Regions from separate parts of the Homo sapiens genome. Here region 2 is linked to region 1. A link means that fine-mapping ties the variant in region 1 to the expression of a gene that starts in the linked region. Tissue or cell type: whole blood. Region 1 holds a variant in brackets; the other region holds the start of a gene. All regions are shown on one strand. Distances are from middle to middle.

Region 1 (2,756 bases):
AGCGAGCCAGAGGGGCTGCAAGAAGAATTATTAAAAACTAATGATGTGATTCAGTGCTGGAAGGAAGGCGAGAAAATGAGTCTGAGGTTGTTGACAGCCTCTGAGAGTTCTTGCCTGCAGTAAGATGGGGGCAGGATGGGTAGGGAGATGGGGTAGCAGTGGGAGGTACTAGGAGGTGGGTGGAACATAGGGTCAAGAAGTGAGAAAACACAGGCGTTTCAAGCATTATCTGCCAGATGTTTGCTGCCTGTTTTCCGGAGGCAGTTTTGTGTTACTGCCCTGTTCCAGTAAAGTTGATAAAATTGCCAAGCCTCAAGAAAGAGATCTCTAAATGCCATTTTGCACATTGGAAACCAGGGGTCAAGCAAAGGGAAGTCAGCAAGGGAACACACACTGGAAATTCAGAGTGAGGAGCACACTCAGAGTTCACACCTGCCTGCTGGGAGCTCACTTATGGCTGGTCTGTGAACTTGACCTCCTGGGCCTGATTCAGGGCAAGTGGGTGTCCTGGGTTGGGGTGGTTCCTGATGCATCTTTCTGTTAGTAAGCATTTGATGTGGGTTATGTGAGCATGTGTGTAAAGGGCTTAGCACAAGCCTAGGTCCACAATAAGGGGTCTGTAAATGCCAACTGTTGTGGGCCTTAAGAGTTATTACGGGAACCGGGTTCTTTTTCTACAGCACATTCCCAGCAGACTGACTTCACAAACTTTGACTGTCTGCATTGGAGCTCATCATTTTGGTCTCTGAAATAAACAGTTTATGTGCAGAGAAATGGTGATACTGAAACACCAGGGGTTTGGTCTAGGTCCTGCTGCTCGCCGCATAGAAAGCCCATCACTGACAAGATGAGTATTGCCAAGGAAGATTTTAATTGCGTGCTGCAGCCAAGGAGATGGGAGCTCAGTCTCAAATCCATCTCCCTGACCAACTAAAACTAGGAGTTTACATAGCAGGGAAGAAATGTAACAATGTATAAGAAAACAGGAACTCGGGAGGAGCAAGGAAGCAATCATGAAGAAAACAGGAACTCGGGAGGAGCAAGGAAGCAATCATGATGAATGAGGGGTCTGGTATCTCATCTC[T/C]GGATGTGGTAATCTGGTGAGTTTCAGTTCTTTGATATTTTTTGAGAGGCCTGGGGGTCCCTTCCTGAGGAAATAACTCAGATAAGACAAATGAGGGCTTCAAGCTTTAAGATCAGAAAGGTCAACTTCTGTATTTATCCAAAAGAGTATCTATGGGCCGGGTGCAGTGGCTCATGCCTGTAATCCCAGCACTTTGGGAGGCCAAGGCGGGAGGATCACGAGGTCAGGAGATCGAGACCATCCTGGCTAACACGGTGAAACCCCGTCTCTACTAAAAAATACAAAAAAAAGTTAGCCAGGCGTGGTGGCGGGCGCCTGTAGTCCCAGCTACTCGGGAGGCTGAGGCAGGAGAATGGCGTGAACCCGGGAGGTGGAGCTTGTAGTGAGTCCAGATCGTGCCCCACTGCACTCCAGCCTGGGTGGCAGATCGAGACTCTTGTCTCAAAAAAAAAAAAAAAAAAAAAGAACATCTATGATGGGACTATTGGGTCAGTTTCAATGGTACAGAAAAGTCCAAAGCCTGACTTAGTAAAATCTGTCCAAGTTCCACCACACACAATTCAACATTGCAGAACAAGACAAGACCAAGTGTGGGACTGGGGGCATCTAATCGGGGGTTTGTCCTTGCGTTGTAAAAGAGTAAGGCAAAGAGAAAAGGGGTCCTGGCATTGAGAATAAAGATAACAGAACAGCTTAAGGTTAAGGGCTCTGCCCCCACGAGACAGACACCTTGGGTTCAAATCCTGGTACTACTTTATCCTAGCTGGTGACCTCGAACAAGTCACTTTGCCTCTCCGACCTCAATTTCCTCATTCATAAAATAAAAGAGATAGAACTTACTCTATTGGGGTTCTTGCGAGGACTCAAGAAGCTAAAATTAAGGGGTGAATGCATGCAGGGGACGTAGCACTCAGGGTGGCATATCAGTGCCCGCGGGAAACAGCAACTCTGTGTGCTCCCTCATGTGTCCAAGGTCACAGACCAAGGACGTCAGAGAGCCAGGATGATGACCTCTGATCCCACATCTCCCGAGTTCTCACCATTCCCTGGGAGTAGGGAAATCTCCCTCCTCTTCTTCCTCACTGTCGTGGCAGGAAAAGAGGAAGAACAGGCAGGGGCTGTGGATCTTGGGGGAAAGGACAAGTTAAATCAGCTGAGAAAAAGGAAGCCCATGAAATAATCTAAATGTGAGGGTGCCAGAGCTTTGGGGCTGGGGCAGGCAGTCCCCCCCGGACTCATGCTTAAAAGAGTCAATGCAGGCTGGGTGCAGTGGCTCACACCTGTAATCCCAAGGAGGCCAAGGAGGGCAGATCACTTGAGGCCAGGAGTTCAAGACCAGCCTGGCCAACATGGTGAAACCTTGTCTCTACTAAAAATACAAAAATTAGCTGGGCATGGTGGTGGGCACCTGTAGTCTCAGCTACTTGGAAGGCCGAGGCACAAGAATCGCTTGAACCCAGGAGACGGAGGTTGCAGTGAGCCGAGATCGCACCACTGCACTCCAGCCTGGGCGACAGAGCGAGACTCTGTCACAAGAAATAAAAATAAAAGAGTTAATGCTGCGAGAAGCATTGGAAGTGAGACACATTCTCAACCATGAAATAGGGGCTGACTCACATGGTCTCTGCAGCAGCTGATGGGCATTAAGGTGATTACTTCGCAGCAGGTGTGA
Region 2 (2,500 bases), 86 kb after region 1:
AGCCTGGTGGGCAAGCCATGTGAGAGCAGCGGCTTTGGGGAGCCCCCGGGTTTGCAGGGACCTCCAGTGACCCTGGAGCCCCTGACGCTGCCTCTACACTTTGAGGGCAGGAGTTTCAACTATTGTATCCTATTAATGAAAAACAAAATCCTTCGTTTACTTAGAAATGTTGACATCCAAACACCGCAGAGAGAACCAGTAAATAAATACAGCCGGTCTATTTCGAAACTGCCTTCTAGAGTTGTGCCCAAGCAGACTTTAACTGAGTCAAGAGAGAAAAGAGAACGGTGTGTGCCTTTTGACCCTTTTGCCGCCCCAAGCCTCCCACCCCGACCCAAGGAAGGCGAGGGAGGAAAAGCTGGGAATTTCAGGTGCGCTCCGAAACCTCACGCAGGGGGTAGGAAAGCAAGCGGAAAACCAGCAGACACTCCCCCCTCTCCAGGGACGTGGGCGCTTTCCAGGACGGTCCCGCGTCTCCAGCGCCCTGGCGCATCCCAGGCGGAGAGAGGATCCTCCTCCCTGGGCTGTGGGAGAGACCCGACTTCACAGGACCAGCTGCGAGCTGACGGATCCGGGACTCCTAAGTCGAGCCCAGGCTCCTGCCTTAGCTGCCTGGCCATCTCCCAACCCTCCCAGTGAGGCTCAGCCCGGAGGGTCCCCCCCTTTTGTTCGCGGGGAGAGCGCGTCGCTGCGCAGAGCTGCGTATCCCCCTGAGCTGCCAGCCCCGCTGCGGGGGCGCTTCCCTGGGTCCACTGCTGGCGTTCCTCGCGCTCCCGCGACCACCCGCGCAGGCGCATGGATCCCCAGCTGTCCCCGGCCCCCCGCCCCCCGCCCCAGTACTCACTTCTCCCCAGTCTCTCCGTTTTCCAAGCCGTCTCCTCCACCGCCCCATAGCGCCTCAGAGGCTTCTCGGCTTCCAGATGGGTGGACAAAGATTGCTTTAATTCCATCGCTGATCCCCGTGGCCAGGTCGACGGGTCTCCCTTTACTCCATTCCCGTTGCGGGCTGCAGGGAGGGAGGTGGCTCCAGCCAGCAGCGTTTTAACGGGCCGGGCGCCCGTGACGCTGCTCCCTCTCCTCCGCCGCCGCCAGCGCCCGGGAGCGCCTACGGGTACCCAGAAGGGGCAGGGATGCACGGCACATGCGCAGTGGAGGCTTGGAGGGGAGGCTTGGGGGCTGGGTAGGGAGACAGAGGGGCAGGTGATAACTCTAAGAAAAACAACAAACAAAACAACTAAAATAAAAGCAACACAAAGGAAGTGAGAACAAGGCCCCTGCCTATTCTAGAGCCCCTAGTGATGCTTGGCATGGGGCTGGCACTGTGGGCGGCTTGCGAGCTGTAAGCCGGCAGCGGGTTTTGAGTGGGATTGGTGAGCCCGTCTCTACCTGCGGGCGATGCATCCGTCTTTCTGGGGAGCATGCAGAGGCGTGAGTGTGGACCTAGATCTATGGGTTCTGGGCTTGGCTGACTGCTTTTCTGTGAGAATATCTGTCGTGTGCGTCTGTTTAATTTGAAGTGCGACAGTGGATGCCTATGTCAGTTCCATATGTGTTTGCATGCACTTTGGGGAGAGAGAGAGAGAGATGAAAATATTTTGCACACAGGTATAGCAGAGCTGTTTGGAGCATGGGGCTTTACTTTCCAGAAACCCCAGAGGTTTATCTTTAAAAACAAACAAACAAACAAACAAAAAACACCATGGCAGTGCCTGGGCACGATGGCTCATGCCTGTAATCCCAGCACTTTGGGAGGCCGAGGTGGGTGGATCACTTGAGGCCAGGAGTTTGAGACTAGCCTGGCCAACATGGTGAAACCCCATCTTTACTGAAAATACAAAAATTAGCCAGCTGTGATGGCGCAGGCCTGTAATTCCAGCTACTCGGGAGGCTGAGGCAGGAGAATCGCTTGAACCTGGGAGGCAGAGGTTTCAGTCATCCGAGATCATGCCATTGCACTCCAGCCTGGGCAACAAGAGGAAAACTCCGTCTCAAAAAAAGAAAAGAAACGAAAAAAAGAAAATGATATCCCAGTAGGAAACAGGGAAAGAATATGAATAGTCATGTCATGTGGGCAGAGGAGGAAGGCCTAATGTGAGAAGCTGCTCAACCCCCTTAGTAATAAGGAAAATGAAAATGTAAATAAGAATATATCATCCGATAGGCAAAAACTAAAAAATCTAACAATCATGTGTTGTAAAAGATGTGGATTTTTTTTTTGAGACAGAGTCCAAAAATGCTGGGGTTACAGATGTGAGACACCATGCCTGGCATAATTTGAACTTTTATCTAATGCTAGTGGGAGTATAAATTGGTACAACTGTTTTTTTCTCTCTGTCACCCAGGCTGGAGTGCAGTGGCATAGTCTCGGCTCACTGAAACCTCCACCTCCTGGGTTCAAGCTCCTGAGTAGCTGCGACTACAGGCGTGCCACCATGCCCAGCTAATTTTTTGTATTTTTAATGGAGATGTGGTTTCACCATGTTGGCCAGGCTGGTCTCGA

The links. PIP is the estimated chance that this variant, and not a neighbour inherited with it, causes the effect.
Region 2: BMERB1 starts here. The variant in region 1 is fine-mapped to the expression of BMERB1 in whole blood (TOPMed, PIP 0.99).

Annotation. Positions count from the first base shown.
Region 1 is chr16:15,519,270-15,522,025 of GRCh38, reverse strand. All of the region lies in intron 2 of MPV17L-BMERB1 (MPV17L-BMERB1 readthrough), which reads right to left. All of the region lies in intron 2 of BMERB1 (bMERB domain containing 1), which reads right to left. LOC105371102 (a long non-coding RNA gene) reads left to right here and starts at 1,015. Exons shown (of 3, transcript XR_933129.3): 1 at 1,015-1,100. The variant T/C (reference allele first, on the strand shown) is at 1,085.
Region 2 is chr16:15,433,104-15,435,603 of GRCh38, reverse strand. BMERB1 (bMERB domain containing 1) reads right to left here and starts at 1,016. Exons shown (of 6, transcript NM_033201.3): 1 at 845-1,016. The coding sequence starts at 950. The region is part of intron 1 of MPV17L-BMERB1 (MPV17L-BMERB1 readthrough); the gene reads right to left. RefSeq lists an enhancer at 90-712.